Linked DNA regions of Homo sapiens. The protein of the gene in region 2 interacts with the protein of the main gene of each other region in a pairwise test. Each region holds a gene or a part of one and is shown on either strand. Other genes may lie near its edges.

The links. The genes of interacting proteins can lie anywhere in the genome.
Region 1: the proteins of KIAA1958 (region 2) and AQP1 interact in binary tests that used the Homo sapiens proteins (3 or more experiments, as listed by UniProt).

Annotation. Positions count from the first base shown.
Region 1 is NC_000007.14:30,914,853-30,918,352, reverse strand, and holds part of AQP1 (aquaporin-1), read right to left. Parts: intron 1-3,500. UniProt on the Homo sapiens protein: Forms a water channel that facilitates the transport of water across cell membranes, playing a crucial role in water homeostasis in various tissues.
Region 2 is NC_000009.12:112,485,481-112,489,626, reverse strand, and holds the start of KIAA1958 (uncharacterized protein KIAA1958), read right to left. Parts: upstream 2,801-4,146; 5' UTR 2,509-2,800; exon of another isoform or gene 1,983-2,508; intron 1-1,982.

The DNA of each region.
Region 1 (3,500 bases), on a different chromosome or scaffold from region 2:
TTGTTAGATTGTAAGTGGTTTATTACACAATAATTACATTTTAAAAATCTATAAAAGAACTGGCCAGGCGCGGTGGCTCACGCCTGTAATCCCAGCACTCTGAGAAGCCAAGGCGGGTGGATCACAAGGTCAGGAGATCGAGACCATCCTGGCTAACACGGTTAAACCCCGTCTCTACTAAAAATACAAAAACAAAATTAGCCGGGTGTGGTGGCCTGTGGTCCCAGCTACTCGGGAGGCTGAGGTGGGAGAATGGCATAAACCCGGGAGGCAGAACTTGCAGTGAGCCGAGATGGTGCCACTGCACTCCAGCCTGGGCGACAGAGTGAGACTCCGTCTCAAAAAAAAAAATAAAAATCTATAAAGGAACTGCAAAAATCCCCCACTTGTATGCACCAAACAACATAGCCTAAAAATAAATGAGGGGAAAATTGACAAAATTACAAGGAGGACTGGATCACCCTACCACCAGAGTGAAAAATGTTAACAATCTTCTATTAGAAATGTACAGAATAAATGAAGCAGCCGAAAACTACCAATAACATGATCAGGGAGGGTTTGAACCCCATAATTAACAAGCTTGACTTCAGAAAAATATGAAAACCCTGTACCCCTGAATTAGAGAATGCACACTCTTTTTCATCAACTGATGAGGTACTGACCAAGTGCCTCGGCCTCCCTGGGAACAGCTATATCATACAGGCATCCCTGCAGGACATGAGGTCCTGGAGGCTGTGCTGTGTGTTTGCACTGGTATGTCTGATGGCACTTCTGGGTGCCTCACTGTCTCCCTGTGTCACACACCCACATAGCTGCCACTACCAGCTAGAGAGGGAAGAGAAGAGAAAAAAATGAGCCCCCCATGTGAGAAAGCAGCAGGTCTCAACAAGGCCTTTATTTGCTCCCAGAAGCCATTTCATCTTCCTGACAAGAAACAATACACAAAGCAATGGCTTCCTCCCTCCCTCCCTCCTTCTTTTCCTAACTCCAGGGCAGGGAGAGGAAAAGGCTCCATTGAGGAATCCCCGCCCAACCCTCCTTGGGTCCCAGAGTCTGAGTGGGACCACCCAGTCTTGAGAATGTGCTTTGTGTACCATGTGTGTGTGTCCTCCACGTAAGAGCACATGTGTGTGCATGTTTGTGTTTGTGCCATGTGTGTACACTTTGGAGCAGCAGGAATAATCAAGGGCTAGGAGGCAGTGCCACCTTGACAAGTCTCCACGCCTCTGTGGGCTTCAGTTTCCCCATCAGTAAAATGGAGGCCTTGGCCCAGATTCGAGCCCCCGCAGTCTCCAAAAGTGCCTCCTGCCTCACATCGGGGTGGTCACTCTCCAGCCCCAGATCCAGAAACCTAAGCACAGGATCCCCCGCAGGCCATCAGAATTGCTGATCTCAGCATGACACAAAGCCTATGCTGCAGAACCTGTCACCCACCCCACTGGACCCCCGCATAGACTAGCACCCCCAAAGCAGCCTCCTCACCAGAAAGCATCTACTTGCACACCCCTAATGGCAGGGAGCTTATTGACTTAGAGACAGCCCCTTCTTCGTGTCAACAACAATATCAACAACAACCTTCTTTACACTGAGTAGAAATCTGCCTTTCAAGGGGCCCTGACAGCGAGATTGCAGGCACTGAAAGGAGCTGCTGGAAGGGCCGGGGGCATTTTCCGGCCTTTCCGGATATCTTTTAAGTTGGAGATTTCAGCCTCAGAGTCTGCCCACCCCACAGAACTGTAGCTCCTGGCTGAGTGAAGACAGCCCCTCATGATCCCCCTGGGCACCACTCCATGTGGGCAAGGAGCCCCTCTCATCCCCATGGGGAAGCCCTGACTGAGGGGATCCTGGCCACTTGCAGGGCCTCGCGGACAGCATTTTCCTGCCTTCACCTCCCGGTGTGAGGGCTCAGATCCCAGCCACTCAGGAGACTCCAGACTCATTGGTGCTTCCAGAAGGTAAGGGCCATGGCCCCTGCTGGGTGGGGGCCCTAGACTAAGTGGGGGTACCATCTGGAATTGGCTTGCAGTGAGCTAATGGCCACTTCATGCTGCTAGAAGGTTGCCTGGGGTGGAGAAGGGAAGGCAAGGTGTGACAGGAGGCTGTGGCCTGGGAGTGGTGAGCAGGGGGTGAGCCCCTCAGACAGGTATCCCAGGAGGCCGTGTCCCCTCTCAAAGCATGGCCCCTTCAGAGTTCCCAGGGCAAATCCCAGTCAGGGCCAAGCATCAGGGTGGGCAACACTGGGACCGGCTGGGCTGTTCTGAGGTCCCTAAAGGGGAAGCAGCGTCAGGATTTTCCATGGTGAGGGAAGTCTCCACCACAAAGCTCCCCATCTCTGTGCCCTCCCCCTCATCTGGGGCTGGCGGAAACAGTAATTATATGTCCCAGATGTGGCATCACCACCCAGCCCCCAGCCCCTCCCTGGGCAGGACGGGCTGGGCAGGGACATGGAAACTCTGCCTTCCTTTCCCCATCCCTCCCCTGAGCTCTGGAGGAGGCAGCAGCACCCCCGGGAGAACTGGTGGCATGAAGAGGCCTCTCACTCTATGACTGGGGAAACTGAAGCCCAGAAAAACGGGATAAAGGGGAGAACTTAGGGCTTCAGTCAGGCCCCTGATGCTGCAGGTAGAAACACTTCTTGAGCAGTCAGGCCTGGAATTAGCAGGGCTGGGAGAAGACCCCGAAGAGGGTAGCTTTGCCCTCTGCCTGAGCCCAGCGGGCTGAAATCACAGGCTCTGGGAATCCAGACCCCTTCCCCCGGATGCAGCCCCTGGCCCGAATCCTGAGCCCTCACCACCCTCCTCCCATGCACCCCCAGCCTGACCATACCCAACAACTCCCGTACCACGGCCCTCACCTCCTCCTAGCCTGTGCTTGCTCACACAGTCCCTCTGCCCCTTCCCTCTGCAGTGTCTCCACATTCAGGCTCCTACGAAACCTCCTCCCTGATGCCTTCCTGGCCCTCCCACCCCTTAAGTTCAAAAGTTCCCGGGCCCGCCCTGACACCTCTTATCGCATCTGCCTCCTGCTTCATATCACAGGCAGCTGGGCACTGGCTTATCTTGACCTAGGGCTGTGGGCTTCTCTCGGGAGGGAGCCGGGCTAACCCAGCCCTGCATTGAGCACCCAGCAGTCCCTGGTCATGCTTGCAGGGAGCCGGCTGAGCAGACCAGACAGCAGAAGAATGAAAAAAGCCAGCAAATGCCAGGAATCCTGAGTCCACCAGCATCTCCTACTTCTCAGAGCCCAGCCACACCCTGCTATGTCCCTATCTCATAGACAGGAACTAGGGCCACACAGGCCAGTCTGTTGTGTGATGCCACATGGTGTTAGTGGCTGAGCTAGGACAGGGACAGGTGAGAGTGTCCACCCCAGCCTCAGAGCCTCTCACCCTTAGCCAAAATTGGTATTTGGCTCTTAGAACTAGCCGGGACCTTGCAGGCTGGACGGAGGCCCACGGTCTCTCTAGGGCATATCCTGAGCCCTGAGTCAGTCAGGAGAAA
Region 2 (4,146 bases):
TATATGCTTTCCTCAACACCAACTTACCAGAAAGGAAATCAGCTGAAAATATGTAAGGTTCTCTGGAATGCTTCTGATCACACTAAAATATTATTGCTAATTACACAAAAAACAAAAAATTCTTATCTACCTATCAGTCAAAAAAAAAAAAACACAAAAACATAAACAAAACTAGGTGTTATCTTTCAGCCAGCCCACATAAAGACTACATTGATGATCTCAGAAAACAGGCACAACTACAACTTTGCCAAAACAATTCTCAGTACAGGCCACACTCGATGCTTAGCTACACAGTGACTCTTTGTTAAATCTTATCACTACCACTGACAGCCTTGTAAATATATAAACAAGCAATTCAATCGTTAGCTTATCTTTTTTAAATATTTTAAAGAGCTAAGGAAGAGTACGTATATCTAAGTGCTGAAATTCTGAGAGTGGTCTAGAACTCCATTCCTGGATTCACGATAAAGCCTGATCAAATTTCAATACCTCTTCTCTTTGGGCTATTACTAGGAATGGAGAGGGACAAGGAACGCTAGTCAAGGGCCTACCAGAGCCACATACTGAGCTGTGCTTCTGTGCAGAATTTAAATTCATTTACCTAATGCAGACTGGAAGTCAAAGCAGAAACTAGTAAAATTTTATCAACTAAAAAGGATTGGCTTGATCACTGCTAGGTTTTAAGTAATGTGTGTACAAATCTACGCTCCAGGCATTTACAAAATTAGGCATGCAATAATATTAATCTGTTTAACTGGGACAAGAATCTAGATAAATTTTTCTCCTAGAAAAAAGCACTATTTTAAGCATACTAAACTTTTTATAATGACAAAAATCAGTTTGTCTTTAAAAAAGTGCATTAAATTGTACACTGTTTACTAATTTTCAAACCTTAATGAAAATTTAAATACATAATTTTCCACGTTTTTCCTTCAAGTTTAGATGATAATGCTTTTTGTTTTTTTAGGAAAACCTCTATTTTTTACATATGACTGTCCATATAATTGTATGCATGGCCCCCAAAACTGCTTCTTCGTTTTTTTAATCTCCTGGGTAACTGTCAGACTTAACTTTGTCAATATAAATTCTCACAGGGTGGGCAAAAAAGAGTTTCCAGAACGGAGCAGTAGATTGAGATTGATACAGGCATAAATCCATACCTGCGTATTAAAAATCTGAATCTGTAAAATTAATTTTCTGGGTGCTTATTCAACCTCATTTATTATTTGAGTATCTACAATACACAGCAACCGTTCATGAAGAAACTTAGCTAGCTAATCAAATAAGACAATTCAGAAACATCACCCTACAGTATTTTTCAAAACACTGTATCCATATCCATGCACAACCCAATCGTTGGGTTATATACGTGGAATAAAATAGTAAAGGCACAATCCTAGAGGGGAAACTCAATTCTGACATTCATGGTCTCATGGGTAGGGAAAGATCTCATATCTTAAATCAGCAGAAATAAAGGCTTCAGCCTGAAGGGAAAGCTAGATCATTGTTTATTGCACTCCAATTTAACCTCCACCATGGAAGCTGTCACTACCTGACTGGCTTGTTAGCTGTTTATTTCGTCGGGAGAGGATTCCGTCTTGCGAATCCTAACGAGTTCGGGAAAAAACAAAACTTTACTCCTAAACTTCAAAACACACACACACACACACACACACACACGCACACACACTAAATACATATAATTGTAAAAATCACAGCCACGTTCATTTTTTTTAAAGTCCCAATCTAAAACCTTAAAGAAAAAAAAAGACTTGAAGGAACCAAAAACATTCTTTGATTTTGGTTTGACGTTGTTCAGTCCAACCTCCTCCTACCCAGGGGAATACATTTCTCGATATATTTGATAACAAACACAAATCACTGTGCGCAGCCTCAGATGGGGGTGGGGGGGCGGAAGAGCCTTTTGGAGAAAGCCCTCCTCCGTTAGAAACAATAAATAAGGGAGCGAAGCCATGCACGTTCCTTCACACACGCCCCAAACGCACCTCGGCGAGCCACCCGAGGAGGAAAACTAGTGGGGCAGAGCCCTGAACCACCTCTCTTTCTCCATAAGCATCTCAAGACTTGGAAACTAAGAGGACAGACCTTTTCCTCCTCCTTCCCGCCCTCCTTCCCACCTCCGACAGACCCAAGAGCAGGAGCGGGGGCGCCAGCCCCACGCACTGCGCCTGCAGCCGCCGCTGAGACCCGAGCTGCCGGGCGGCGGGGCGGCCCGGGGCAGGCGGACCGGAGCCGCCACCGGGGGTCTCTGCGCCTCGCACCCCCAAGCCCGGCGCTGCCGACGAGCGGCCGCCCGGGTCCCTGCCCTCGCTCCGGCCTCGCTCCCCCGAGAGGAGACAAAAGGAAGGTTCAGCCGGGTCACCGCGCGGCCGCTGACGGGGAAGCAGAGTCGACCCCGGCGCGGCCGCCCCCCACACAAAGGGGCTCCCCGCCTGGGTCGCGGCGTCGGCGCACTCGTCCCCGCCCCGCGCGCGGGCTCTCACCCACCTGCAGGTGTCTGTGCGTCTGTCCATAGGAACGCGGTCGGCGCGGGGGGGCCTGCGAGAGCCGGGCAGCCCGGGCTGGACGGGACGGGCCGAAGGGGCGCGAGGGCGGGAGGAGAGCGGCCAGAGGGCCGGGCACCAAAGGTAAGTGGAGCGGGGAAGGCGCCCGGCGGGCGGCGGACCGAGGAGCGGGGCGGGGGGCGGGGGCGCCAGCCTGGCTCGGCCGACCGCCGCGCGCCGCTCCGTGCGCCCCGAGCTCCGCGCGCCCGGCTCGGAGCGCGGCGGGCGGGCAGGGGGCGGGGCGCGGGCGGGCCGGGGCGGGGCCGGCGAGCGGGGCGGGGGCTCGGACCCCGGGCTCCAGCCGGCACCGGAAACGCGCCGTGGTCGGCGAGACCCACAGGAAGTGTGTAACGACACCTCCTACGGCACGCACCGAGCTCGCAGTCGTTGCTGCCCCGAGGAGGTGTAGATCGAGCCTCCTGCCGCACACACGTTCGCACGCGGCGGCCGGCGCGCTGGACCGAGAGGTTGGAGCAATCCATCCTCCGCGCGCACGAGCTCAGTCCCTACTGCCCCGACAGGTGTGGAACCCGCCGTCCCCGCTATGGTCCGAGGAAGTGTACAGCACTGCTCCCTACTACACGTCCTGGGCCCGCGGTCCCCGATGCCCCCCGGAGCTCTGTGCACCTCCACTGAAACGCAAGGAGCAGACAGAACCTACACCATCCGTGAGGTGTGTGATTTCCCTTATAACGCATTGAGTAGAGTTACCTCTCCGCCCAGGGATGTGCATTAACACTTTCTACCGAGATACTACGTACAGCCCATAGTCACCGCTGCCCCGTGAAGGTGCCCAACAACCACCTGTAACACACACACCCCTATCCCATCGAGGGAGCGGGGATGCTTAATGATACCTAAAATACACTAAAACTAGGTCCTCCAGCAAACCAGAGACACAAGAACACCACCTACACGACTCAGCACAGCAAAGATGAAGCTGGACTTGCTAGGTGCTACCAGGCTTGGTCCACCTTTATTTTACCTAACACTTTCGTAGTACTTGCTGTGTGCCCACAGTTTGCACTGAGTACTTAGCGAATATTAATTTATTTAATCCTAAGAACTCTACATAGTGGGTGCTATTAACATTGCCATTTTATGATAAGGAAACTGAGGCACAGAGAAATTAAGAAATTTTTTCAACATCACATAGATAGTAGCTAGAGGAGCCTGGATTCATTCCGGACAGTCTGGCTTCAGAGTCTGCTCTTAACTCCCTTTCTATTTACAGCACTGACCATCTCCAAAACAGTAATCATGGTAATAAATAACATTTACACCATATCTGTCAGGCCTTACGTAGTGCCCACATCTTGGCCTCACCTCATCTGTGACAGGCATACCCCAGTCACTTGTACCCTTGGAGTAGGTAAGGGAAGAGAAGAATATTTTTGAGGGAGAGAAAGAAGCTAACTTCTTAGCAAAGGAGAAAATATCCAGGGTCGTCCAGAATCCAAGCAGGTAACTTCATTACCACATCAAGCATGTTCTCTTTTAGGTAGCTTCTGCCAACCCCTCTCCATCTCTAGAGCTGATTCCGGTTGATGTTCTTAACACCTTCCTCTATCAACACTCTTCC